Linked DNA regions of Homo sapiens. The protein of the gene in region 2 purifies or fractionates together with the protein of the main gene of each other region. This does not show direct contact. Each region holds a gene or a part of one and is shown on either strand. Other genes may lie near its edges. The genes, in order: VWA8 and IDI1.

Region 1 (15,316 bases), on a different chromosome or scaffold from region 2:
AGGAGGCATGCAGTTGCACAATCATGGCTCACTGCAGCCTCAACCACAATAAAAAACAATATTTTATTTTTTACAGAAACAGGGTTTTAGTGTCTCACTATGTTGCCCAAGCTGGTCTCAAACTCCTGGCCTCAAGCGATCATCCCACCTTAGCCTCCCAAAGTGCTAGGATTACAGGCGTGAGCCCAATTGTTTTACAACAAACTGTCCATAATCATGGTGAAAACCAGCAGCCTGGAAGTCACTGAAGTGAACAGAACTATACAGAAGCTCCTCAAAAGCCTCAATCCCAAAAAATTATCCCTACTTGACCTGTCTGGCAGCTCCCTGAAATGCTCCATTTTTAGAATTTGTCTTTATTTGATGTACTCAGAGCTACTGTATGCAAACAGCACTAACTCGGGGCATTTGTCAAAAAAAATCAACAATTGTTTAACATCACAGCTGCCTGAGGCAGCAAAACCAGTTGGAGCTAACAAGAGGACAACCAAAAAACTTTAAAGACAGAAACAAAAACTGAAAATGAGATGTTTGCAGAAGGCTTTGAAAAGCTTCAGTGTATGCCTAAGAATCTGGAAGGCCATGCATATATTCAGGAAAATCCTGAGAAGGGCCTAATCTCTCTCTCACCTTCCGCTAATCTTGAGGGTCCACACAAGCAGAAAGAAAAGGTTGAGACACAACTGTAAGCTACCTATGGAGCACTGAAGTCATGTCCAACTTGCACACACAGACTCTCAGCAAAAGCCAAGAGACTTATTGATTCAAGGCATTAAAGAAATCTCCGTTCAAACATTAGCTGACCACTAAGCTAACAAGGCATGACAAAGAACACAGACTTTAAAGAAATAGACTAGGAACATCACTAAAAAAAAAAACAGCAACACAAGGAGCAACCACAAAGCCTGGGAAGGAGAGATTATACTATTTAAAATGTCTACTTTCAGTAACAACAAAATTATAAGAAATTAAGAAATAGGAGAGTATGGCTCATACATACAGAAAAAAGGAGTCAATAAAAACTATCTCTGAGTAAACCAGACATTTGACTAAGTAGAAAAACACTTTAAATCAGCTACCACAAATACATTCAAAGAATTAAAAGAAATCATGTCTAAAGAAGTATGACAACAACGTCTCATGAAACAGAGTACCAATAAAGAGAAATTATAAAACAAGATCCAAATAAAAATTCTGAACTTGAAAACTCTGATTAAATTAACCAGAGGGGCTCAACAACAGATGTGAGCAGGCAGAGGAAAGAATCAGCAAACTTGAAGATTAGTCAGTTGAGATGATCCAATCTAAGGAACAGAAAGAAGAAATTATAAAGAAAAATGAACTGAGTCTCACAGACTTGTGGGGCACCATCAAATCTATCAAATATAATGGGAGTCCTCGAAGGAGAGAGAAAAAAGAGAATAAATAAATAATAATGAAAAATAATAGCCAAAATTTTGCCAACTTCGATGAAAAACATTAATTTCCACATCCCATCCAAGAAGCTCAACAAACTCAAAACAAGGTAAATTCAAAGAAATCTGCACTTAGACACATCCACAGTCAAACTATCAAAAAGCTGAAGAGAGAATCTTGATAGCAGAGAAAAACTGACTTATCATATAAAAAGGATCCTTGTTAAGATTGATAACTGACTTCTTTTCAAAATCTAGGAAGTCCACAAACAGTAAGAAGACATATTCAAAGTGCTGAAAAAAAAAAACCTGTCAACCAAGAATTCTATTTCCAGTAAAATTATCCTTCAAAATACAAAGGAGAAATGAAGACATTTCCAAATTTAAAAAAAAAAAAGTGATAATTCACCACTAGCAAACCTGCCATCTAGAAGATACTTACTAAAGGGCATCCTTCCTTTAAGCTGAAATGAAAGCACACTAGACAGTAACTCAAATCCACATGAAGAAATAAAGATTATCAGTAAAGGGAACTACATAGATAAATAATAATGACAACGTAAGCCTATTTTTGTTTGTAACTCTTTTCTTCTACCTGATTTTAAAAACTTCATAAAGCAATAATTATAAAACTGTGCTGATAAACTTTTAATGTATAAAGATATAGTTTGTATGACAATAATAGCACTGAGGAGCTGGAAGGGAACAGAGCTACATTGGAGTAGTTTATATACTATTGAAACTAAGTTACCATTAATCTAAACAAGATTGTTTTAGGTTAAAGTGTTAATTAGAATCCCTAGGATGACCACTAACAAAATAATTAAAAAAAAAAAAAGAGTAGTAAAAGAAAAAGTGGGCCAGAGTGGAAAGGACAGATTGCAGAGGCATTTAGGGGGTAGAGTCAATGGAACCTTGGGTTAGATGAAAGTGACATATTCTCCCTCAAGAAGCTGACAAAGATTCTCTTCTTGCCCAAACTTTAGTCAGGTTTCTAAACCTTTTCCTAGACACACCTGTGTACTTCCTTGTAAAATCCAGTTGTAGCAAAAGAACGCCATTAAAACAATTTATCCAGAACCCGCCCATCCTCATAATCTAATCACCCTTGATAGCTGATCAGAGTCCTCATCTTCTACAATCCCCCAGGTGATGTCTGATCACCCCAGCCTGTCGTCAGCAAGAATTTTGTTAGGTTGGCTTAGCCAGAATCTCCCTTAACCCTGACATTTCCTCTTAACAATTTTCTATCCACCAACTCCCACACTGTTCCTTGGCTATAAACTACCACTTGCCCATGCTGCATTGGGGGTTGAGCCCAGTCTTTCTCCCCCACTGCAAGACTCATAGTGACAGTCCTGAATAAAGTCTTCCTTACCCGGCTTTAACACATATCATTGATTTATTTTTTCTTTAACAGAGCACATAGTCTAGTGGAAGAATCTGAAGAGTGAACAAAAAGCTATTCTATATCATGACCAATGACTGGAACAAAGAATAGGAGAGGAGAGTGGCATGAGATGAGACTAAGATTAGATCAAGAAATTAATAGCTAAGGATGGACCTTTGTTCCCAAAATACTAAAAACTCATTTAAAGAATTTTGAGAAAAGAAGTGACATGATTTTGGGCAAATAATGATTGCAAGTCATTAGGGAAATACAAATCAGGACCACAATGAGATGTCACTTCACATGTCTGACTATGGCTGTAATAAAAAAGACAAACAATAACAAGTGTTAGTGAGGATGTGGAAAAACTAGAATCCTCACACATTGCTAGTTAGAATGTAACATGGTGTAGGTGATTTGAAAACCATATTGGTGGTCGGGCGCAGTGGCTCATGCCAGTAAACCCAGCACTTTGGGAGGCTGAGGTGGGCGGATCACATGAGGACAGGAGTTTGAGACCAGCCTGATCAATGTGGTGAAACCCCATCTCTACCAAAAAATACAAAAATTGCTGGGGATGGTAACCTGCACCTATAGTCCCAGCTGCTGGAGAGGCTGAGGACCTGGAGGTTGAACCTGGGAGGGGGAGGTTGCAGTGAGCCGACATTGCACCACTGCACCCCAGCCTGGGCCACAAAGTGAGACCCTGTCTCAAAAAAAAAAAAAAAAAAAAAACAAAACAAAACATTTTGGTAATTCCTTGAAATGTTAAACATAGAGTTACCATGTGACCTAGCAATTTATCTTCTAGGTAAAACCCAAGAAAGTTGAAAATATGTCCATATAAAAACTTGCATATGGATGCTTGGAGTGGCAATATTCACAATAGTCCGAAAGTGGAAACAATCCAAATGTCCATCAACTGATGAAAGGATAAGCAAAATGTGGAATATCCACACAATGGAATATAATTTAGCCATAAAAAGCAATGAACTACAGCATCAATAAACCTTGAAAACATTATGCTAAGATAAGCAAGATACAATGGCTACATATCCCATGTATATAAAATGTCCAAAATAGACAAATCTATAGAAACAGAAAGTATATTAGTAGTTGCTAAATGCTGGGAGGGTGGTGGGGGAGAGAGAAGAAAGAAAATGGGAAATAACTATTAATGAGTATAAAGTTTCTTCATGGAGTGATGAAAACGTTAGATAACAGTATGGTTGTACAACTCTGAATAAACTAAAATTACTGAATTGTACAATATGGAAAGGTGAACTTTATGGTATATGAATTATATCTCAATAAAACTGTTATAAACCAAAAACCATGATGAGTTACTTTTTCACACCTGGTAGACTAAGATTAAAAAGACTATGCTGACAAGGATGTAGAACATCACTGTCGGTCAAAGGTAAAATGGTACAACTGCTTTGGAGAATTGTTTGGCAGTGAGTTAAAAAGTTAAACAGGCATCTATAGTATGACATATCAACTCAACTCCTAGATTTTTACTCAACAGAAGTAAAAACTGATAACTACAAGAATTGTACAGGAATGTTCACAGCAGGCTTCAAATGAAAGCCATCCAAATGTCTATCAATAGGAGAATGGATAAACAAACTGTGGTATGTTTATACAATGGAACATTATTCAGGAATTAAAAACAAACTGATAGGTACAGCAACATAGATGAATCTCAAATTAATGCTCTTCATGAGAAAAAAAATACATACACACATACAACCATACCATGTGACTCTATTTATATATAGCTAAAGAACAAGCAAAACTAATCTACCATCATAAAAAAAAAAAAAAAAAAAAAAAAAGAACAGTGATTTCCAGGGCAGGGTAAAGGGGTAGGAACACAAGAGAACATTTGGGATGATTAATGTAATCTTGGTGGTTATACAGGTTTATAAAATTGTCAAAACCAACCAAAATAAATACTTAAGATCTGTGCATCTGTTCACGATAGCAAAGACTTGGAACCAACCCAAATGCCCATCAATGATAGACTGGATAAAGAAAATGTGGCACCTATACACCATGGAATACTATGTAGCCATAAAAAATGATGAGTTCATGTCCTTTGCAGGGACATGGATGAAACTGGAAACCATCATTCTCAGAAAACTAACACAGGTACAGAAAACCAAACACTGTATGTTCTCACTCATAAGTGGGAGTTGAACAATGAGAACACATGGACACAGGGAGGGGAACAACACACACTGGGGCCTGTCAGGGGGTAGGGGGCTAGGGGAGGAATAGCATTAGGAGAAGTATCTAATGTAGATGACCGGTTGATGGGTGCAGCAAACCACCATGGCACGTGTATACCTATGTAACAAACCTGCGTGTACTGCACATGTGTCCCAGGGCTTAAAGTATAATTAAAAAAAAAAAAAGTTCTGTGCATTATATGTAAATCTTATTCCAGGTAAAAAAGAAACAGTAGGATGTGAGAAAAATAAATGTTTCTACTGAAATATTGATGGGTGAAGTAATAGGATGTCTGGGATAGGTTTTAAATACTCCAGAACAAAAATCAGTTAAAAGAAGATTGGCATAATATTGATAAATGTTGAAGCTGGATGATAAAATCATTAGGTTTATACTATTCTCTCTAGCTTTAAATAACTTTGAAAATTCCTATAATGAAAAGTTAAAAGTTATTCATTCATATATTAATAAATATTTCTTACTGTAGTTCTGTGGCACAAGTTCTGGATTCTTAGGAATTTTCAACTTGTAGGATACATCTCCAATATTAACTGTATCACCTAAAAAGAGATTTTAAAAACAGAATAATTATAAGAGACAAACGAGAAAACCATAGACTATGCAACAATGCTTGTCCTGACCTACAGAGAGGGATGTTACAGAAATGTACTACGCAGCTGTCTATAAGTCAAGCACTATGCTCTAAAACTTCTATCCAAAGTATATATGTATAAAGGAGAAGTGAGGCATCAGTGCAATTCACATTTTAAATGTGTTAGCAAACAAACAAACAAAAACATGATAAAATACATCAACAAGCTTTATTTCATGAATAGCAACATTAATATAGGCAAAAGCAATACAGAAGAATGCATTTTGTTTAAGATCATTCAAAGTATCCATAGAGTAAAATCTTTTTTTTTTTTTGTTTTTGAGATGGAGTCTCACTCTGTCACCTGGGCTGGAGTGCAGTGGTGCAAGCTCAGCTCACTGCAAGCTCCGCCTCCCGGGTTCACACCATTCTCCTGCCTCAGCCTCCAGAGTAGCTGGGATTACAGGCGCCTGCCACCATGCCCAGCTAGCTTTTTGTATTTTTAGTAGAGACGGGGTTTCACCATGTTAGCCAGGATGATCTCGATCTCCTGACCTCGTGATCTGCCCGCCTTGGCCTCCCAAAGTGCTGGGATTACAGGCATGAGTCACCACACTCAGCCTTTTTTTTTTTTTTTTTTTAAGACGGACTCTTATTCTGCCACCCAGGCTGGAGTGCAGTGATGTGATCTTGGCTCACCGCAACTTCCGCCTCCTGGGTTCAAGTGATTCTCCTGCCTCAGCCTCCTGAGTAGCTGGGATTACAGGTATGTGCCACCACATCTGGCTAATTTTTGTATTTTTAGTAGAGATGAGGTTTCACCATGTTGGCCAGGCTGGTCTTGAACTCCTGACCTCAAGTGATCCGCCCACCTCGGCCTCCCAAAGTGCTGGGATTACAGGTGTGAGCCTCCACACCCAGCCCATAGAGTGTTACCTTTAACACAGATCCTCAACCTTTTTACATATCTTTGTACACCCGTATTTTTACTGCATACAGTTTCAAATTATCCAGCAACATATCCTCAAACTTCAACATTTCTAGGTGCATAAAAGGAATAAAGCCCCAGTGGCATAAATGCCAAGAACTGGCCAGGTGCAGTGGCTCACGCCTGTAATCCTAGCACTTTGGGAGGCCAAGGCAGGCGGATCACTTGAGGTCAGGAGTTAGAGACCAGCCTGACCAACATGGTAAAACCCCGTCTCTACTAAAAATACAAAAATTAGCTGGGCGTGGTGGTACGTACCTGTAATCCCAGCTACTTGGGAGGCTGAGGCAGGAGAATCGCTTAAAGCCAGGAGGCGGAGGTTGCAGCAAGCCAAGATTACGCCACTGCACTCCAGCCTGGGCAACGGTGCGACACTCCGTCTCAAATAAATAAAAAATAAAAGCCAAGAATTCCTACATGAAATAAGCAAAAGCAGGCAAAAGTTTTCAGTAAGTTCTATACAGTTCTATTTTTTAATGTAACCTTAATTTCCGAGTGATCTTCTAAAGCCGAGGACTAAACTGAATAATCTCTCCCCGCTGTGCTCTCTCTAACAGCAAAATAGGCATGGTGATACCATTTGCATCTAGAATTTCATTTGGAAAGGGCTCAGAGACACTCCAAAAAAGTAGTCGTGCAAAACTCATCTTTCAGCACTGCCAGTTTAAAGCTAGCAAGATACCTTGAACACTAAGGCCTTAAATCATGGTACTAATAACAATAGCCAACATTTGTTGAATGCTTACTACCTTCTAAGTATTTTTTGCATTCTCAAAATAATCCTATGAGACAGAAATTTTACAAATGAGAAAATTTGTAAATCCATAACAGAGTTTTTAACAGATAAAGAAATTTATTACAGGTATGTGGTAAATTGAGAGAGGAAGATAAGGACTACACACAAAGCTAAATCCCTGCTAGGTCCAAAACTGGCAGCCAGAAAAAAGCAAGGCAAAAGATGATGAGGACCAAAATTCAAAAGCCTGCAAAGCTCCTCCATAACCCGTGCACCGCTCCCTTTTCCTCCCCTGTCCAATTAACTCTTTGTCTTCACGCAATCTATCACAGAGATTCTCAAAGCATCAACGTCACCTGGGAACTTGTAAGTCATATAAATCTTCAGGCCCCACCTCAGACCTACTGAATTAGAAACCCTAAGGTCCAGCAATCGGTGTTACAATGAGCCCTCCAGATGATCTCTAATGCATGTTTGAGATCATTTGGTCGTTTAAGTTCTAACACCCTCAAAAAACAGGTGGTCAGCAGTGCCTCATATAGTACAATCTTAGTTACTGCCAGGTATTGGTTGACTGGTCATCTCGCCCTATTTTCCTTAATGCAGGAAAGAACCTATAAATTAGCTACTTTCTACAGTAGCTTTTCTTTTAAAAGATAAGCTTGCTTACAAATATAAGTGATATTATCTACTGGCTTTTATTACAGAGTAGTTTCAAGAATTATAGTTACAGTATTTTCAAATAGGATGTCTTTACAAATGTTATTTCACTTCCTGAAAAGACTGTAATTATTTGGCCTCCTGACAAAATGATACTGAGTAATTAATCTGAACATAAGAAAAACGTTTTCAGGCACAGGTTCTCATTACAAACATTCCCTGAGTGTTAGAGCTGACCGACATCATCCTTCTAATAAATAATCTAGAAAAAGGGCAGACTATACAAATTCATGGTAACTTGACAATTGGCTGTCCATTTTTTTTTTAAAAAAAGTAAAATTCATACCTCACATTTCTGAAAGACAGTACATTCAAACTGAGTAACTGAGGAGAGTACAAAAAGGGAACTATTTACAAAGGTATAGCAGAGTTTACGGAAACCAAAAAAGATGGTGCAGTATCCTAGGACTAGCAATAACAGAAAGTCATTACCGCCCCTAGGCCTGAAGGGGCAAGGGGAGAGAGCAAGCAGAGAGGGTCACTGTGTTAGGAAGCCTCCTTCTGGGTAACACAGCAAACCCATAATGGTGACCTGGCAGGGAGGGAGCTGGGAAATAAACATGAAGCAAAAACGGACAGAACTAAAAGTGGAAATAGAAAAATGCACAATCACATCTAGATATTAATAGCTTTAAGTAGCTCTCTTGGTAAATAATGGAAGAAGTAGGAAAAAATAAAGAAGGATACAGGATAAGGATAATTTTTTCTCAGCCTTCTGGCAAAGACCAAGTATAGACGTAAAGAAAGAGAAGATTGGAAAACATTATTAATCACTTGGCCTAAATGACATTTATGGAACACTACACCCAACAACAGAATGCATATTCTATTTATTATTTATTTAAGTATTACTGCAAGTATGTTTTTATTTTCTCAACCTATCAACTGAATATTGTATTTTATAAAGCACTTTTTAGTATTGTAATTGGTTCCTCATGATCAGAATGCATATCCTTTTTAAATGCACATGGAACATTCACCAAAATAAATTATAGGCTGGACCATAAAGCAAGTCTCAAGGAATTTAAAGATGAGACCAGGCACAATGGCTGGTGCCTATAATCCCAGCACTTTGGGAGGCCGAGGTGGGTGGATCACCTGAGGCCAGGAGTTTGAGACCAGCCAGACCAACATAGTGAAACCCCATCTCTACTAAAAATACAAAATTAGCTGAGCGTGGTGGCTGGCACATGCCTGTAATCCTAGCTACTTGGGAGACTGAAGCAGGAGAATTGCTTGAACCAGGGAGGCGGAGGTTGCAGTGAGCCGAGATAGCGCCATTGCACTCCAGCCTGGGCAACAAGAGTGAAACTCTGTGTCAAAAAAAATTAAAAAAGAAAATTAAAGGATGGAAGTCATAAAGATTATGTTTTCTTACCACAGTGGAATTAAACTGGAAATCAGTAACAAAAAGGTAACTGGAAAATCCCCAAACATTTGGAAATCAAGCAACAGGCTTCTTAAAAAATCCAAAAAATAAATCACAACGGAAATTGGACTCATTGGGAAACAGGGTGGTGATCAATGAGCCACATCTGCAATAGACAAAAGGGAAAAGTTATGACATTCATATGGACCAGGCATCTGCCATCTCTGCCTCAAACATTGATGTTCTTGGCCATCTTCTGTTACTACACTACACTTTCCTCAGTCATTTAATCCATACCAATGTCCCAACTCTGACCTCTATACAACCTTTTTTTTTTTTTCAGTTAAGGGTACTCTTCAAACACCATATACAACTAATTCTTTAAATGTCTATTTTGGCTCAGATCTCTCTCCTGAGTTTCATACCTGCCAGTAGCCTACTGGAGACTTTACCTAGATATTCCAGAGACAACTCAACAAACACACAGAAACAGAATTCTATATTGTCCATTGTGTGCGCCTAACCACCTCTAACCAGCTCCACCTCTTGTATTCCTATCTCAGTGACTAACACTTTATCTCCTCAGCCTAGAAGACCTTCCACATCTCTCTCACACCACTTGCCCTCTACACAACTACTACTGAAATATCTTCATCTCCCCATTGAACCTTCCCTAACTTTTCCTCTAGCACAAATTGATCACTCCATTAGTCTTTCTGCTAGCACAGGATCTGATTTATGCTTCTGTAATGGAAATACAAATTCAAGGAGATAAGAGACATTTTCTAACAATTAAAGAAGAGCTTTTTATCTACTTCCAAAATAGAGATAGGATATTCTATTTCCACTTAAAAGATACACTCAGAATTTGTACTAAATTACTAGAATATTCTGTTTCCACTTAAAAGATACACTCAGAATTTGTAATATTTTTTCTTTTAAATGCCAATATTTACAACATACTGGAAATGTCATCGTTTGCAACTATTTAAACTTACCAGGAAAACTTTAGCTATTAACCTAAAAATGTTCAAAGGGATACATATTTTTAAAATCCTCCTAGCAGATAAATAAGAAAAATTTTTGAAGACTACTGTTTAGTCTACAGGACTCTTTTTTTCTTGGTGCAAGGCCTAAGTTTTAATCATCATTTTATCCCCAATACCTGAAACCTACCAGATATTCAATAAATGTTTGACAAATGAATAATTATAATTTTAAATTTTTTCTTAAGTATTGTTTTTAAGCTGTAATGTTTTCTCCTTTGAAAACATCCCACCTACTAATGTGCTTATAAGTCAAGCCATCTATAATGATTTAAGTGAGGTAGTTTACTCTCTAAAGGGGAATAAGAATACTTATAAGACAACAGGTAACATAATTTAGGCAAAAGAAGCAAATGTATGCCTTTCTTCATGTAAACTGTGGGTTTACTTGAACTAGACTCAAATACTATTGAAGTGTCTAAAGTGCCTGAACCTTGCTGGATTTCTGATTGGTTCAGTTCACAGGGGCTCCTGTTAAGAAGTACACTACAGTCTTTATTATTATCCTGAGATTCTTCATGATAGCCCTTCTGGTGCACCATATCCTCTCAAGTCTTAAATGTTTGTATGCAGCCATTCATTGAGCATTCAATGGTCTCACTTTGACCAGAACAGCAAGAACATAAAGAATTATTCAACTGATATGACATCATGGCTTTTAAATTCCATAATGAGACCAAGTAAGTCCATTAAGTTGGTGACAGAGAGTGGCAACAATGCCCAAAGTTTCAGTGAATCTGTCAAAATTGAGAAGCTAACCAAAGGGGCAAATTGTTAAATTCAACCAAATTTGGTCTAAGGATGCCTCCGTACTTGGAGTCCTTATGTAATGAATTGCAACATAACTTTGTATGTAAATTAACTGAAACCGGAACTTAGGAGTATACTTTGGTAACAAATAGATGAGTCTTAGCCAATCTGAGCAGCTGAGCTTGGGTCAACCACAGGCTGCCAACTGATGAGACCGTGTTCAAGTAAGGCAAACACTGAGTTATAGCCAAGTAAGCTGTTTCCGTACCTGACTTCCATTTTCTGTCCATAAATGCTGCCTGCTCACGTTTCAGAATGGAGCTCTCTGAGCTTATTCTGGTTCTGAGGACTGCCCAATTCACAAATTGTTCTGTGCTTAAATTCTGTTAAGTTTAGTGAGTCTAAAGTTTCTAACAGTAGCTTTGACAAAGAAGTTGGTTTCATGAGGGTTTTTCAACAGCGGCCCTATGAACATTTTGGGCCAGATAATTTTTTGTTGTGAGGGGCTGTCCTGTGTGTCATGGACTGTTTAGCAGCATCACTGGCCTCTACCCGCTAGATGCCAGTAGCACCCCTCCCTCCTGGTTCTGATAACCAAAAAGAAACATCTCCAGACATTGCTAAATGTCCCCTGAGGGGGAGAAATCACCTTGGGTTGAGAACTACTGGGTTAGTGTCATCATTTTTATATATACTAAACTTAGACCCAAGAGAAAACTAAATATATCAGCAATTCCCACACTAGTCTATGTGCCCCTAATGCAGATCTGCCTAATGATTTATAAGCTTACCATTGTTCTGAGCCTTTCTGTTAAATTCTTGAATACACAATGGGGTCAGAATATCCTCAGGGTCAAAATAACCTGCTGCAGGTTTAAAGTAGTTAATAATTTCCCCAAGGTTCAATACCTGATAAATACAAAACTTAGACCAAAACCACAGTATAGTTCTTTCCTCTTTACACTGTATTTCTCAGTTGAAGCCACAGTTCTATATTTCCCCTCCTCAAAGTTATTTCTATCTAATCCTATTGTAGCCCAAGGATATAATCTTAAAATAACAAAAATTCATGTAGATGGATGTTTATTGCATTGTTTATATATTTTAGACAACATGAATGTGCAAGAATGAGACAGTAAAATAAATTATATGGACAAACATATAAACTTAATAACTACTTTAAACAATCATGTACAATGATATTTATTACCATGTTAATATGTTCACAATAATGGATGTAATAATTATAAAACATACATGATCCCATTTCTTTAAAAAAATGTATCTGTATAAATATACATATCATCCAGGCACAGTGGCTCAAATCTGTAATCCCAGCACTTTGGGAGGCAAAGATGGGCAGATCACTTTAAGTCAGGAGTTCGAGACCAGCCTGGCCAACATGGTGAAACCCCATCTCTACCAAAAATACAAAAATTAGCTGGGGTGGCTCATATGGTTTGCCTGTGTCCGACCCAAATCTTGTCTTGAATTCTAGCTCCCATAATCCCCATGTGTCATGGGAGGGACCCAGTGGGAGGTAATTGAATCATGGGGGCAGGTTTTTCCTGTGCTGTTCTCGTGGTAGTGAAAAAGTCTCACGAGGTCTGATGGTTCTATAAAGGGGAGTTTCTGTACACAAGCTCTCTTACTTGCCGCTATGTAAGACGTGACTTTTCTCCTCCTTCGCCTTCCACAATGATTGTGAGGCCTACCCAGCCATGCGAAACTATTGAGTCCATGAAACCTCTTTTTCTTCATAAATTACCCAGTCTCTGGCATGTCCTTATAGCAGTGTGAGAACAGATTAATACAGTGGTGCACACCTGTAGTCCCAGCTACTTGGGAGGCTGAAGCAGGAGAATCGCTTGAACCCAGGAGGTGGAGGTTGCAGTAAGCCAAGACTGCTCCACTGCACTCCAGCCTGGGTGCCACAGCAAGACTCCATCTCAAAAATAAATAAATAAATAATTATACATATATATGTAATCTGATAGGATTAATGCTAAAAAGTTGATAATTATAAATTTGGGTGGGAGGATCATGTTTTAGGGAATCTGTACTTATCACTCTTCTATAATAAACATAGATTGCTGTGTAAAAGTATTTTAGGGTATTTCTATAAACAAATTTACTTCATATACAAGAGTCATAAAGAAAAAACTGTGAATCCCTTTAATAATAATGGCGTTAAAGGAAAGCACCAAAATGTCATGATATATTTATACAGTTATGTTTCTAGGTTTATCATTTGATCTATAGTATATTTGAATCCATTTAACATCAGAGTCCCACTGAAACAACTTGCTTGGCTCCATCTGTAAAAACACTACAATAATCTTTATTGAAAACTCTCTGCAGTAGATATCCTTGTTAACCTCTTTGCTCTTAAAACCAAGAGACAGTAATTTTAATGGAAGTATAAAGAGATATAAAGAATTTACAATTATAGATACTTATACTATCTGACAGCACAGGATAAAAAGCAGTGGGTTTGGGTTGAGTTTATCTGCTTGTTTTGTTTTTAACATAAATGACCTATTTTCCTTCTGCTTATCAGGCTTAACAAAGGTCCTCTCTTGAGAGCAAACGACAATTCCAGCCTCTCCTGCTCCTTCTCTGTATGAACTTTCACAAAATAAGCCACTGAATGCTTACTAGGTACAAAGTGTTGGCAGGCACCAAACGAATATATAGATAAACAAAACAAATACTCCAGGAGAAATAACAGCAGTATATAACTTAAATATATTATTTATGAACTTTGTTGTTCTTTTTTCAAACTATTAGGAAGCAATGTCAATTACAGAGAGAGGAGATAATCAGTTACTGGTCACATGTATGAATGCAGCTGAGAGCATCATCCCAACATAAGATGTAATCCATTATGGCCTATTGCTATTTGTAGTTTTACACTTGTCCATGTATGATCTCTGATTCAAAATGGGACACTTCCATCTTGATAGCCTTACTCTCAGGCCTCAGAGTAGCCAAAAGTGTGCTGTCCATTTACCTGGCTCACAACTGCTCTTACTCAAGTCCAGATCTCTGGTGGGTTCCCAGCTGCATTCAGTTACAGTTCTCACACCCTCAAAAAATACCTCTTTTTGGTCTGATCCTGCCAGAGTAAATGACTGATTTAAAGAAGATAGTATGTTCTCTGTAATATGTCCATGACTCTCACATTTGAAGCAAAGCCTATACTTTGATTTACTGGCTATAACAAAATTTGAGGACATTTACAACTTATCTACCAATACGTATATAATACAGACTTTAAAAACTCACACCCACATGTGTTTTTACAATCAACATGTATTATCCATGTACAAAGAACAATTGTTTTTTAAAAAGTTCAAGTCAATTCACTCGGCTAAATCTGCCTACCCAGATAGTCTGAACAGTCCTGAATCTAAACAAACTTGGTTTCATGTCTTCTAAAGGCAAGGAAACAGAATAATTCTCAAATAGCTAAAACTGTACATACTAAGAATAAAAAAGCTAACTTTTATTGAGCATTAATATGTGCCACAGATTATATTAATTAATAAATCCTCACAACAACCATAATAGATATATTCTTCTTATCCTTTTACAGTTAAGAAAACTAGGACACAAAGTTAAGTAACCTACCCTCAACGACCCATGGTTAGATAGTGGATAAGTGGATTCCAACCCAAATTGTTTAACTCCAAAACCCAACCTATAGTTTATGCTATACTTCCACCTTTGACCTCTGCCTTCTAGGGCAAAGGAGCAAAAAACAAATAAAGAACACACAAAAAATGTAAAAAACAAATGAATAAACAGCCCAGAAGTGAGAGTAATTGAGAAAAAGCAAAAAAAAAAAAAAAAACAAAAAGTAAAATTTGAAATTGCAACACTATGGTGGGGGACGGGGGTGGTGTATGTCTTCAATGAATAAAACGAAATACGTGGGACCTAAATATGCTTTTTTTTTTTTTTTTTTTGAGATGGAGTCTTGCTCTGTCGCCCAGGCCGGAGTGCAGTGGCTCCGGTCACTCCAAGCTCCGCCTCCCGGGTTCACGCCATTCTTCTGCCTCAGCCTCCGGAG
Region 2 (15,411 bases):
ATAAAATACTTGCTAAACAGTCTTGTCTGAAATTATAAATTGCCCAAAGTTAACCATAAATGAGTCATTCTATTGAATTTAACAAACATTTAACTTTGCAAGAAATAAATTTTTATTTTTCTTCATTATCATACAGCATTTAAGAATAATAAATCTGTCTTGAGGTTTCAAATCTGAGATATCTATGGCAAGTTTATAAAAAGTACATTGATCAAGGTACAATTTTTAACATTAATATACACATTCCATAATCTCATCTATTTAACATTAACACAGGCCTTTGTTGTTGTTATTTTTTTCTCCCTACAATATTTCCTGACTCTGTAGGACAGTGGTCCTCAGTTGGGGGTTGACTCTGTCCCCTAGGGGCATCTGGCAACATCCGGCATAACTGTGGGTGTCACATGAGAGGGACGCTGCTCACCATCCTGCAATGCACAGCACAGACCCCACCACAGGGGTTTTATCCAGCCCAAATGTCAACAGTGTCAAGTTTAAGCAACTCTTACCGAGTGGGACTCAATTCCCATTTTATGAACACCTCTGTGCTCACTGTAATTCTGAAAACACAGACTTTGCTAACTGGTAAATACTATTTACAAGAAGATTCAACCTAATCAATATCACTTATCAAAAGCAGTGGCTGACTGTAAGTATCAACATGTTTCCAGAATGAATAAACCACACAATCAACTCAGAATGATACAAATTAGGGTCCATATCATTTAATTTCCCTTGAACCTGCTCTGCTAGTTTAATCTGCTAATATGAAAGTTAATTAAGACTGTTTTGAAGGAGCGAGACAATAGTTTCCTTTGCACATTTTTCTGAACTATGAGAAAAATTTAATGATACATAAAGCACCTGGCAAATAGCAAGTCCTCTGCAAGTGCTCCGGAAATGTTTATCACAGCCTACTAAAAACAGAGTTTCACTCATTTGTTCAAATTTCCCATAAGTATGTATCTGCAAAGATTAAATTAAGTTTTATTTGCTCGCTCTCATTTTACAATAATCTCTCACAAATGTCGCTTAGAAACAGAACACATATCCAGGGTGTGTGATACAAAATTATAAGTTAGTTTTTTCCACACAAGTTTTAAAGTATCAGTGTATATAATACATTAATGATAGTACCAAATGATAGAACTAAATTTAATGATAAATTAATGATAGAACTAAATTTAAAAGGAAAAAGTCATTCTAAGTTTGTTAAGCAGATAAATTTTTCTGTAATCATTTACCTACATATTCACATTCTGTATATTTTCTCATGGTCAACAAACTGATTCAAATGATTTAAGTTATCCCACCATTTAAAGAGAAAAGTCGCTGCAATAATTTTAAACCATGGCGTTATCTTAATTTCACCACTGGCTGCTTTTTTCAGAAGTTCTTTTAGTTCTTCCTTTGACACATAACAATAGCTTTTAATCTCATTGGGATCTGGATTCAAAGTTACATTCTTCCTCACCAACAAAATGTAATCAATTTCATGTTCACCCCAGATACCATCAGACTGAGCTTTGTAGTGAATTCGTGTTAAATAATTAATTTCTTCTGGAGGAACCTAAGACATTAAAAAAAAAAAAGTAATTAAAACATCGGCCACCGTAACAAAAAAAATCTAAAATTAGCTCACTGTATTACAGCGATATCTCGAACAGCAGTATAGTTTTAGGATTAGAACTTGGTTAAAGCATTAATCTCCTATCAATGGTATATGGAAATCTTAATATTATATATGGAAAAATGATTACATCATTAGTTTCAAGTGTTTGCGTTTTTTTCCCGATCAGATAAGTTTTTTTTTTTTTAATGTTAAAAAAAGGGGCAGTCACTCAAACTAGAAATGTGACATTCTTCTTTTTCTTCTTTTTTTTTTTTTTGTGAGACGGAGTCTTGCTGTCACCCAAGCTGGAGTGCAATGGTGTGATCTCAGCTCACTGCAACCTCCGCCTCCCAGGTTCAAGCGATTCTCCTGCCTCAGCCTCCTGAGTAGCTGGGATTACAGACGTGCCGCCCCACCATGCCCAGCTAGTTTTTGTATTTTTAGTAGAGACGGAGTTTCACCATGTTGGTCAGGCTGGTCTCGAACTCCTGACCTCGTGATCCACCTGCCTCAGCCTCCCAAAGTGCTGGGATTACAGGCGTGAGCCACCACGACCGGCCCGACATTTTTCTTTTTCATATTTTAAAATTGCTTTTTGGAAAATATAGATAAGAAATACTTTATTTATCCAGGTCTTATTTAAGGGGGACAATTCCAAGAAAAAAAATGATTTCAATTAAACCAATGAGATTTATGGTTCATATTCCTAAGAGTTTCCATCAGAAAATCTTCACCTTTTTTGTAGGTGGGGAGTTTTAGGTGAGAACTGGAAAACCTGTCAGTTAAATTCTACAAGAGCTGTAACACTTGAAAATACTCATCTTAGATTTGATCAATTATAGAAATATTCAACCTTATATAGTGCTTAACAGATCAATCCATCCCCGTATTGAGCTAAGTTTTGACAAGTGATATTAAGAAATTAAAATTTAAATAATCTTTATTCAAGATGGTTTGTGGGGCTAACTCATAACTCCGGAGGTTACCAAGCAGAGAACTACATTTGAATTTAAAAATTTTATTAAAAACCTTTTTATAGTATGTTTAGGTTTCAGCTTGTATGGTTGTGTAGGAGAGCTGGTTACCTCTTCCAAGGGAATTCCTAGCTCAGCTTTCAGCCGTCTCTGTGCTGCTCGCCTCACTCCAAGGGCGTCACTTTCCTCAAGCTCGGCTGGATTGCTTAATGGATGACTACAACACGTATTCGTAAAACAACCTGGAAAATGGTAATACAGAGACAGATCAACTTTTCTTCAAAGTAGGTCTGAAAGATCAAGAAAAAGTTTTATAAGTAACTGAAAAATGAAATGATTTTTAAGGATTTTAAAATCAGTTATAATGGGCTATCAGTAATTATTTTAAGGATTTTAAAATTGGTTATAATGGGCTATCAGTAATTATTTTAAGGATTTTAAAATTGGTTATAATGGGCTATCAGTAATTATGTTGTGAAACAGACTACATTTGTAGGTAGGTTCCTTATTAATACTTCTTTAACCAAAAAAGATCAAAGTGTAGATAATACAGATTAAAGATAAATATGTAAATTATACATATTGCCCAATTGCTTACTAGTTCTTATTTTTTCTTGCTGTTGTATTAGGTTGCACTCATTGTGTAAACTCACTTTATGCAGAATATAAAATTATGCCATTCACAGGATTTCCCTTTGTGACCTTGGCTCCAAGAATTCAGAATGATAAAAAGTCAAATTAATGTACAAACACAATATTGTACATTAAAAGTGTACTAACCTGGAAAGGTAATCTTAGCATCTGATCTTTGCTGTAGCAGAAGCTTATTTTCGGTGTTGAATAAGAAGACACTAAAAGCTCGATGCAATAATCCTGAAAGCAAAAGAAATAACAATTATTTTAGCCTTAAGTACCAGTTATTTGCCAAATTCTCTCCCTGCAGTTCAGAATAACATTAGTAACTTGCTGCTGCTTTTGCTTTTTCCCATGGTTTATCCACATGCATAGTCTCTGCATGGCTATGGTGAGGAAGAGCTCTGCACTGGGCAAGGAAGTTGGCCGTCGAGTGAAGGAAATGGTGATGCTGGTGGCCCCTTTCCGGCAGTCAAGTTCCCTATCAAGGACATTCAGTTCTCGGAAAGTGGTGAAGGCACATGCTTCCCTGCATGGTGCCCGCCTCTCTCCACTCTCTAGAAATATTAGAGGCTAGGCTGCTGCTGTATGTCAGGGCTAGTCCCTCTTCTATGAATCCAGAATAACTCTGAAGAAGCCGAGTAACAGGCATGAAGTGAAGAGAAATCGCTGTAACAGGAAGACAGCAAAGCAGATGCTAATGACCACACTATTTAACGAACTGGAACCAACGAGAAAATACGGTATTACTGAAGACTGCACTTCCTTGAACAGAGTGCTCTTCTCAGCAAATCGGAAATGCCTACACAAATCGCTTTACAAGAAAGACTGTTTCAAAGCAGCACCTTTCTCAATGTTCTCGTTCAGGTGACAATTCTTCTTGGTCTCAGCTCCAATTTTATTGTCATTTTCATCAATAAGGATACACATCTCTGCCAGGAGTTGAACCTGTTGCTTGTCGAGGTGGTTAGTGTTTATTTCAGGCATCATTACAAAATGTCTGATCTGTTCTAGAACACTAATATTAAAGGAAAAGAGAAAGAAAGGCCATCATATATTTTTCTGAATGTCATATAAACACAGGTTAATAATGATGCTGCTTCCCCATCTGCAGTTGTACCACTCTGCATCCCCACAGGGACCCCAAGAACGCTGCCAGCCGGCTGCTCAGCACTATCTGGGTCATCATTTCTCCTACAGGTTTCACAGCTGGCCTTTTATCACAGTCATGCTCCTGAAGGCCAAGCTCAACGTTCCGCTCTAAATTCTTGACCTCTGAGATCCTCTGCAGCACTTGATACTCAATCCTTTTTCCAGTGTACTTTTCTTCTCTGGTTTTTGGCCCCAACCTAACTTTTCATCCTGCTTTTCTACACCAGCTTCTGTAATCTCTAGAATGTGCTCCCATTGCCATCCTGAATTGTTTTTCCCACTGCCTGTCTCTGCATAGTTGCTCAAGATTGCCACAGGCCAATCTTGGTTGAAATCCATTTTTTCAAGGCACAACTCGTGCCAGACATTCAATAACCTTTCTACCAATGTCACAGTAAGACTTAATCCAGTTTTTCTCAACCCAAGCTCCTGGGTTATCAGAAAAATTATTTGTATGAGTTTTGTCAATTTCCCCCAGGACAGTACTTAGCTGATATCATTCTAGATAAACAGGAGAAGACTTAATTCGTTATATTCAATAGATGCTTTAAGGCAGTGCTTGGCAAGTTTTTTCTGTGAAGGGCCAGAGAGTATGAACTCTGCCTCTGTAACACTAAAATAGTCACAGGCAATAGGTGAACTGGGCAGTATGTAAACTGAGTGTGGGTGCATGCCAATATTTATGGACACTGAATTACATTTAATTTTCATGTGTCACAAAATATTTTGATTCTTCTCCATCCGTTTAAATATGAGAAAAACACTCAGCTCACAGGACGTAACAACAGGCAGCAGGCCAGATTTGGCCTATAGGCCATAGTTGGCCCATTCCTACCTTAGTGCATCAAACATTAATTTTCTGAACCCCCATTTATCCCTCCCATGTGATTACAACGTAAAGCACTTATTAGGGTACTTTCAGTATTCTGACTCACACTTTTACATATCTGTATCCAGCAGCGTCTAAGCTTTCTAATCTTTGTATCCTTCAGGGCACCTTTACATAGTCTGACCTTGAAGTTTTTTATTCCCTTTTTTCTTCTCCTTTATTTCTGAATGAATAATAATTTTTGTTTTCTGATTTTTCTACCCAATATATTTTGAAGATCCCATGTGCTCTACTTTCTATGTGACTCTATTTCAAATACATAGATTTTACTGAAATACTTTTTTGTTTCTGAGAGGGAGTCTCGTTTTGTTGCCCAGGCTGGAATGCAATGGTGCAATCTCAGCTCACTACAACCCCCACCTCCTGGGTTCAAGTGATTCTCCTGCTTTGACCTCCCAAGTAGCTGGGACTACAGGCGTGCACCACCACGCCAGGCTAATTTTTGTATTTTTAGTAGAGACGAAGTCTTGCCATGCTGGCCATGCTGATCTCGAACTCCTAACCTCAGGAGATCTGCCTGCTTTGGCCTCCCAAAGTGTTGAGATTACAGGAGTGAGCCACCACACGGGGACCACTGAAATACTTTCAACAGAGTTCAAGCATACTGCAGAATGTACACAAAGTGTTTAAACAGCTACTTAATACAAAGTTCTAGACCCACATAGGGTCTGGGTGTGTGTGTGTGTGTGTGTGTGTGTGTGAATGCGTGTGTCAGGAGTCAGTGATGATGGAGATATTGATATCTAATACAAAAAATCTGAAATAAGGTTAATGATTAAAACAAATCAAGAGGGAAAATAATGTGAAAAGGAAGTCAACTTCAGAGTTAGCCTCAATTTTAGAAAGATTTCCAACTTCTATAGGCTAGTTTTATATACAGTCATCCTTTGGTATATATGGGAGTTAGTTCCAGGACCTCCCACAGCTACCAAAATTTGAGGATGCTGAAGTTTCAGATATAAAATGGCATAATATTTGCAGATCACCTGTGTATATCCACTGTGTACATACATGTGTCACATGATGGTGTTTCGGTACACTACAGACTGCATATACTACAGTGGTTCCATAAAATTATAACAGAACTGACATATTCCTATTGCTAATGATGTTGTAGCCATTGTAACATCGGAGCACAACACATCACCTTTTCTATGTTTAGATACACAAATACTTGCTGTTGTGTTACAACTGCCCACATTATTCAGCACAGTCACACACTGTCCAAATTTAGGCCTGAAGCAACAGGAAAAACAGCCTAAGAGCAACTGGCTACACCACACAGCCCAGCTGCTCCACTGTCTGTCTACACCACACAGCCCAGCTGCTCCACTGTCTACACCACACCGCCCAGCTGCTCCACTGTCTACACCACACAGCCCAGCTGCTCCACTGTCTACACCACACAGCCCAGCTGCTCCACTGTCTACACCACACAGCCCAGCTGCTCCACTGTCTACACCACACAGCCCAGCTGCTCCACTGTCTACACCACACAGCCCAGCTGCTCCACTGTCTACACCACACAGCCCAGCTGCTCCACTGTCTACACCACACAGCCCAGCTGCTCCACTGTCTACACCACACAGCCCAGCTGCTCCACTGTCTACACCACACAGCCCAGCTGCTCCACTGTCTACACCACACAGCCCAGCTGCTCCACTGTCTGTCTACACCACACAGCCCAGCTGCTCCACTGTCTACACCACACAGCCCAGCTGCTCCACTGTCTACACCACACAGCCCAGCTGCTCCACTGTCTACACCACACAGCCCAGCTGCTCCACTGTCTACACCACACAGCCCAGCTGCTCCACTGTCTACACCACACAGCCCAGCTGCTCCACTGTCTACACCACACAGCCCAGCTGCTCCACTGTCTACACCACACAGCCCAGCTGCTCCACTGTCTACACCACACAGCCCAGCTGCTCCACTGTCTACACCACACAGCCCAGCTGCTCCACTGTCTACACCACACAGCCCAGCTGCTCCACTGTCTACACCACACAGCCCAGCTGCTCCACTGTCTACACCACACAGCCCAGCTGCTCCACTGTCTACACCACACAGCCCAGCTGCTCCACTGTCTACACCACACAGCCCAGCTGCTCCACTGTCTACACCACACAGCCCAGCTGCTCCACTGTCTACACCACACAGCCCAGCTGCTCCACTGTCTACACCACACAGCCCAGCTGCTCCACTGTCTACACCACACAGCCCAGCTGCTCCACTGTCTACACCACACAGCCCAGCTGCTCCACTGTCTACACCACACAGCCCAGCTGCTCCACTGTCTACTGTCTACACCACACAGCCCAGCTGCTCCACTGTCTACACCACACAGCCCAGCTGCTCCACTGTCTGGTCCTTTGTCTACACCACACAGCCCAGCTGCTCCACTGTCTACACCACACAGCCCAGCTGCTCCACCGTCTGTCTACACCACACAGCCCAGCTGCTCCACTGTCTAGGTCTGCGTCAGCGCACTCTGCTTCCACAATGATGAAAGTACCTAACAATGAACTTCTCCAAAGTATCCCTGTTAAGTGATGCGGGCCGAACGTTAAATTATCATCTGTAGATGATCTCTTATAGTATCTAAAACATGTAAATCCTACATAAATAGTTGTGCTGTATTGTTTACAGAATAAGTCTGTATATGTTCAGTACAGATGAAATTTTTTTCCAAATATTTTATAATGTGCAGTTGGTTAAATCCATGGATATGGACCCCAAGGATACAGTAGGCCAACTGTATATTAGGTGATCACTAAGATAGGTTTCGTTACTACATAATTACTAGACTTTTTGACATGACTTTTTTTCCGGGGGGATGGGGCTGGGTCTTGCTATGTCTGTCGCCCAAGCTGGAGTGCAGTGGCGCGATCTCGGCTCACTGCAGCCTTCGACTCCGCCTCCCAAAGTGCTGGGATTAAAGGCGTGCACCACCGCCCAGCTGTAATGACAATTGCTCTTTCAGGATTTTCAGAATTCAGATTTTAAAGCTAAGCTGCATAATCACAAGATAAAATGAATACGTCTATTTATGCGTTTAAAGAATACCATGTAGTAGACGCGGGAACACATCATCCAACCCAAGAAAAAGGTCTAGTTCCATCTATGCGATGCTCCCCATCTCTTCTCCTGCTCCATTCCCAGGAGAAGCGCCTTGAGTGTGTTGCTGTCACCCTCTTGCACGGACGCAGGTGTATGCACCCGCGTCACACGCGTGGACTCGGCACGGGGAGGCCGGTGTCGTCACGCTCGTGTTTCTGACGATGCTGTCTACGCTTGTTTCTGAATTCTCTAAGGGGAGACTCGCAACTCTTAGTCTCCTGCGACTCGGTTTCCAGTTCCACGAGTTCCTAAACCTCAGGTGACTGTGCGCAGACGACGATCTTTTCCGCTGACAAAGAATGGCAACGTCTCTGACGCCCCGACTCACGCCTCCGCCTTCCACGGGGCGCGGGCGCCCACCACAGCCCGGGAAGGCCCGGCCTCCCTCCAGTTCGGGAGACCAACGCCGCCACCCCCAGCTGTCCAGGCCTCCGCGCCGAGACCTCACGGGTGGCTCAGACCTCGGGCCTCCTCCCCGCCCCGTCCCGCAGCTCCCCGATGCCGCCCTGCCCCTGTCTCCCGAACTCCGCCGCCCGTCCACAGTACCTGATCAGCCTCCGGCCACAGACAACCGCCGGTCCCGGATGGCGCCCGCTTTGAGCACAGTCTGCGGCGCGCACCGCCCACTGGCCCCGCCCCCGGGCCGCGCAGCCAATCGCTCGCGCCAGCGCCAGTCCACGCCACATCGCCCGGCCAATTGGCGCCCGTACGCGCTTGACGACACAATCTCGCCAAGCTTCGCCTGGTGGTGCCACCTCCCTGGCCTGTGACAACGGCAGACGCGCGAAGCACCGGGAACCTGAGCCGTGACCGCGGGCTCTGGCGCCTTTAAGGGGGTCAACACGCCCCACCCCCAGTTCCGCAGAGGCAGCGTCCCGCGACTGGGCGGTGCCCGAGACCACAGACGCCGCCAGCCAATCACGCTTTCGATCCTGCCGTGCGAGCCCGAGGCGCTGCGAACGGTGCCTAACGTCAGACGTCTCGAGGCTCGCGTTCCATGGAGGAAGCCCTCCCAATCCGAAAGCGCCCGGGCGCCAAGCCCTGCAGCCGGAAGCTCGGCGTCCCATGGGAGCGACCTCCGCATGGCTGGACCAATGGAAACGGAGGAAAGGCGGGACGTCACTGCTGACTGGCTGGTTGGGCACTCCCCCCCCTCCCCCCCCCCGAGTTCCGCCGCTGGGACTACAGCGTTTGGCTGCACGGGGAGTTCTCGTATGTCTAGAACGATGGCCTTTCTGCGGTGTCTGCGACCGGGACCAAGGCGGAGCAAAGTCGCCGGGGGTGTGGGGTGTTCCACGCTATGTTGGGAGTGTTCGCTTTCGAGGTACATGACTACGTTCTAAATTTTTTTTTTTTGAGACAGTTTCATTCTTGTTGCCCAGGCTTGAGTGCAATGGTGCAGTCTCCGCTCACAGCAACCTCCGCCGCCCGGGTTCAGGCAATTGTCCCGTCTCAGCCTCCCAAGTAGCTGGAATTACAGGCATGCGCCACCACGCCCGGCTTATTTCGTATTTTTAGTAGAGACGGGTTTCCGCATGTTGGTCAGGCTGGTCTGGAACTCCTGACCTCAAGTGATCCACCTGGCTCAGCTTACCGAAGTGCTGAGATTCCGGGTGTGAGCCACCGCGCCTAGCCCTCTAAACTTTTAAATAATCGTGAAATGTATGCGCAGCTGAAGCGAATTCAGCTATTTCCTCTACCTTTTGTGTGGAATTTAAAATACTGAACTTGTGAGATGAACCTGGTGGGCACCAGTTCTCAAACTTCTTGGTCACAGGACGCTTGCACTCTCTTAAAATGTACTGAGGACACCTAAAAGCTTTTGCTCACTGTTGTTTACTACTGCTATTTACTAACATAGAAATTAAACATATTAAAATATTCACTTAAAAAACACACGACACTAACATAAGTTATATTTTTATTAAAAATCTTTTCCAGACAAAAAACAGACTTTGATTTTGTTTTATGTGTTGACAGATCTCTTTCATGTCTGGCTTCACACAGATAAGAAAATCTGGCCTCCCGCATGCGCAGCAAGTCCTCACTGCTGTCAGTGCGTTCTTGGGAATCAGGACTTTTAAGTGAAACAACGTATAGCAAAACCAATTTTACCAGAGGCTAAAAAATAAGGATTAAGTTCCTAAAGCATACTTCTGGCCAAGGAAAAAAAAAATCACTAAGCTTCTAAAGGCCAAAGTATTCTAATATTAAACATTGAAATAAATGTGAGCTATACATACATTTAAGAAAGATGAATAAAAAGATAATTATTACTTAATTATTCCAGTTCTGGGTCATGTGTAGCTGAAGCCTGTTTCAGTAGCTCAGGGCACAAAGAGGGAACCAGCCCTGGACAGGACGCCATTCCATCACAGGGCCACTCACACACCCACACTCAGACTGGGACAGTGAAGACACACCAGTTCACCTCACGTGCACACCTCTGGGATGTGGCAAGAACTGCAGCACCCAGAGAAAACCTATGCAGGTGTGGCGAGAACACGTAAACACCACAAAGACAGTGCCCCTGGCTGGGAGTCTTTTTCTCATCAATGTTACAAAGAAATGAATGAGCACCTGCTGTATGCAGTTTGAAAATTGAGAAGTATTTTTTAATAGCCTTTTCAAATTATCTTGGTTATTCTTTTTCGATACTACTACCCCAAAACACGAGTGGTGGATTTTCCAATTACTATTTGGAATTTGAAACCACTTCAATGGACATTTTGTACTTGTTACATTAAAACTCATTATTTTTGACTGTACCTCGAATGCCTATTTTCCTGTGCGTGATGTTGAAATGTCATGCATTGGTCATTTGGAAAATACTGATTTACTGAATTAAACAGATCTTCCAAATGCTAAAACATTTCATTATTCAATATCAATCACATTGTTAATATCACTAGTAATCTCATCAGAAAAGTTTTTAAGTATTGGGAAGCTAAAGTATTGTAGCACTGGCTTCCACATAAAGTCACCAAGTTCTTGATGGTTTTAAGTTTGTTTTTTATTTGAATTTTTGCATGAAAATTCCAACATTATTGGCAACAAGTACTGAGAATTATGTTCCTTGAAGTGGCACGAACATATTTATTTTCACGAAAATGTCTGCCAAATATCTAGGTTTGAATACCTCAGTTTATCTGTCAGTTCTTTCCAGTAAAAGCGGTATTTCATGAAAAAAGCAGCTAGTTAGTTCAGCTTACAACTCAAACGTTCCCACAAGTTCTTTTCCTGGAGACAACAATCATAATTCAGCATGTAGCAGAAGTGCTTTATGTGCATTTCCCATTTTGTTATAGAGAATATTAGATGAGTACTGAATGGTCGAGATGATTAAAGTTAATATTTTTTACTGCTAACCATCAGCTGAGCCTTCAATGAGTCATAATCTTTTTGCTGGTGGAGGGTTTTGCCTCAATGTTGATGGCTGTTGATCAAGGTGGTGCTTGAAAGTTGGGGTGGCTGTTGCAGTTTCTTAAAATAAGACAATAATGAAATTTGTCACGTTGATTGACAATTCTTTTCATGAAAGATTTTTTTTAAACCACAGGAAAACTTTTTTTTGAGACAGAGTCTCGTTCTTTCGCCCAGGCTGAAGTGCAGTGGTGCGATCTTGGCTCACTGTAACCTCCACCTCCTGGGTTCAAGCAATTCTCCTACCTCAGCCTCATGAGTAGCTGGCACTATGGGCGTGTGCCACCATGCCCGGCTAATTTTTGTATTATTAGTAGAGCTTGGGTTTCACCATGTTGGCCAGGCTGGTCTTGAACTCCTGACCTTGTGATCTGCCCACCTTGGCCTCTCAAAATGCTGGGATTATAGGCATGAGCCACCGCACCCGGCCAGGAAAACTTCCAAAGTTAGAGTCAATCCTCTCAAACCCTGCTGCTACTTCATAAACTAAGTCTATGGAGTATTCTGAATCCTTTGTTATCATTTCAACAGTGTTCACATCTTCACCAGGATTAGGTTCCATCTCAAGAGACCACTTTCTTTGTTCATCCACAAGAAGCAACTGCTTATCCATTCATGTTTTATTATGCTAGTGCAGTGATTCAGTTACATCTTCGGGCAGCCATAGCCTTACAAAATGTATTTCTTAAATAATGAGACTTGAAAGTCAAAATGACTTCTTGAGCTATGGGCTGCAAAAGGGATGTTGTGTTAGCAGGCATGAAATCAACATGAATCTCCTTGTATATCTCCATCAGAGCTCTTGGGTGAACAGGAGCACTGTAAATCAGCAGTAATATTTTGAAACGAAATCTTTTTTTTTTCCTGAGCAGTAGGTCTCAACAACAGTGGGCTGACAATATTTAGTAAACCACACTGTGTAAGTAGATGTGCTGTCATCTAGGCTTTGTTGTTCTATCTACACAGCAGAGGCAGACTAGAATTAGCATAACGCTTAAGGACTCTAGGATTTTCAGAATGATAAATGAGCACTGGCTTCAACATAAAGTCATCAGCTGCACTAGCCCCCTAGCAAGGGTCAGCCTGTCCTTTGGAGCTCTGAAGCCAGGCTTTGACTTCTCCTCTCTAGTTATGACAGTCCTGGGCGGCATCTTTTCCCAAAATAAGGTTGTTTCAACTCCAATGAAAACCTATTGTTTAGCAAAGCCGTCTTCATCAGTGATCTTAGGTAGATCTCCTAGATGACTTGCTGCTTTATCTTGCACTTGCACATTTTTTTTTTTGAGATGGAGTCTCACTCTGTTACCCAGGAGTGTGGTGGTGTGATCTTGGCTTACAGCAACCTCCAACTCCTGGGTTCAAGTGATCCTCCTGCCTTAGCCTCCTGAGTAGCTGGGACTACAGGCGTGTGCCACCACACCCAGTTAATTTTTGTATTTTTAGTGGAGGCAGGGTTTCACCATGTTGGCCAGGCTGGTCTTGAACTCCTCACCTCAAGGGATCCACTTGCATTGGCCTCCCAAAGTGCTGGAATTACAGGCATAAGCCACCATGCCTGGCCTATCTTGCACTTTTGTATTATAGAGACAGCTTCTTTCCTTCAACCTCATGAACCAACCTCTGATAGCTTCAGATTTTTCTTCTGTAGCTTCCTTACCTCTCTCAGCCTTCAGAAAACTGAAGAGAGTTAGGGCCTTACTCTGGATTAGGCTTTATCAGAATATTGTGGCTGGTTTAATCTATACAGACCACTCAGAGTTTCTCCATATCAGCAATAAAGCTGTTTTATTTTCTTACCATTTGTGTATTCACTGTAGGAGCACTTCAAATTTCCTTCAAGAACTTTTCCTTTGCATTCACGACTTAGCTGTTTCAACATGCCTTCCTCACCATGCTTAATCATTAATCATTTCTAGTTTTGATTTAAAGTAAGAGATGTGCAACTCATTCTTTTATGAAACAGTAGCCATTTTAGGGCTATTAATTGCCTGATTTTTTTTTTTTTTTGAGTCAGGGTCTTGCTTTGCTGCCCATGCTGAAGTGCAGTGGCGTGATCACAGCTCACTGCAGCCTCGAACTCCTAGGCTCAAGCAATCCTCCTGCTTCAGTCTCCCAAGTAGCTGGGACTACAGGCATGAGCCACCACCATGCCTGGCCCCTAATTTCAGTATTGCTGTGTCTCAAGGATAGGGAGGTCTGAGCAGAAGGAGAGAGATAGGGAGGCAGCTGGTCAGTGCAGTGGTCAGAACACATAAAACATTTATCGACTCAGTTTGCTGTCTTATATAGGGGTGGTTCATGGTGCCCCCCAAGCAATTATGACAGTAATATCAAAGATCACTAATCACAGATCACTATAACTGATTTAATAACGGAAACATTCCAAGAATTACCAAAATGTGAGAGAGACATGAAGTGAGCACATACTGTTAGAAAGATGGTGCTGACAGACTTGCTCCATGCAGGGCTGCCACAAACCTCCACTTTGTAAGAAACATATGATACCTGTGAAGTGCAATAAAGTGATACACATGAAAACAGTTGTGCCTGTTACATGACATATATACACACATATATATAACTTGAGAATTTAGGAAGCGACATGTCAAACAGCTTATAACACTATAGTGTACTATCCAAGTGTTTGAGACACAGTTAAAATAATCAGTAATGAGGACAATGACAGAATACCTAGTAAATCTTAATTCCCTATCAAACCATGCGCAAAAATGAGTCTTAGTAAATTCAGCATTGTTGCCCTATGTCAGGGACAAAGTACATGTATTTTGCATAGATGGACATGTGACAAAATAGAAATTGGTTTTCTGAGACAGGATTCTCCACAGCTTCTGCAGGAGGGAGAATGTAACTGGATACCAGGATTGCAATCATAACCTTTTATAATTTCGGCTAGTTTTGTGTCTTTTAAAAAAATTACATTGGATAGTTATTTCAGGATACAGTGTGTTATGGGTTAAATTGTGTCCCCCTTTCAAATTCATGTGTTAAAGACCTCACTTCCAGTATTTTATAATGTGACCTTATTTGGAAACAGGGTTGTTGTGGATATGATTAGTTAACATGAGGTCATATTAAAGTAGCGTCTACTGTACTCCAATATGACTGATGTCCTCATAAAAAGAACGCTAAGTGTGCAGACAGACACGGACATGGAAAACGTCATGTGAAGACTGGCGGGGGCATGCTGCCACAAGCCAAGGAATGCCTAGACGCTGAGATGCATTAACAGGCTCCCATCACAGCTCTCAGAAGGAATCAACCCTGCCAATACCTTGATTTGGGACTTCCAGTCAGACCTCTGACAATAAATTTGTTTAAGCTGCCTAGTTTGCAGTATTTTGTTCCTGCAGCCCTAGCACATCAACAGTGAAAAGAATATGGATTCTGATGCCAGCCTTTAGTCTTTGCCCTGCTGCACGATTATTTTTGACTTTTGACGAGTAATTTCCACATTCTCATGCTTAAAATTCAATTTAGAATAACTTTTACTTTATTGGATTCCTTTGGGGATTAAATTAGTTACAAAAGATGTAAAGCGACTGATCCTCAAAATGATTTCTTTCCCTTGTTTTGTGACATGTCAT

The links.
Region 1: the proteins of IDI1 (region 2) and VWA8 purify together in Homo sapiens (affinity purification with mass spectrometry; 3 studies listed by BioGRID and IntAct, with this or other methods). This does not show direct contact.

What each region holds. Positions count from the first base shown.
Region 1 is NC_000013.11:41,944,414-41,959,729, forward strand, and holds part of VWA8 (von Willebrand factor A domain-containing protein 8 isoform a precursor), read right to left. Parts: intron 5,601-15,316; coding exon 5,523-5,600; intron 1-5,522. UniProt on the Homo sapiens protein: Exhibits ATPase activity in vitro.
Region 2 is NC_000010.11:1,039,935-1,055,345, forward strand, and holds the start of IDI1 (isopentenyl-diphosphate Delta-isomerase 1), read right to left. Parts: upstream 9,186-15,411; 5' UTR 9,070-9,185; coding exon 8,930-9,069; exon of another isoform or gene 8,385-8,929; coding exon of another isoform or gene 8,330-8,384; intron 4,268-8,329; exon of another isoform or gene 4,238-4,267; coding exon 4,065-4,237; exon of another isoform or gene 3,576-4,064; coding exon of another isoform or gene 3,554-3,575; intron 3,460-3,553; coding exon 3,367-3,459; intron 2,829-3,366; coding exon 2,698-2,828; intron 1,571-2,697; coding exon 1,253-1,570; 3' UTR 1-1,252. UniProt on the Homo sapiens protein: Catalyzes the 1,3-allylic rearrangement of the homoallylic substrate isopentenyl (IPP) to its highly electrophilic allylic isomer, dimethylallyl diphosphate (DMAPP).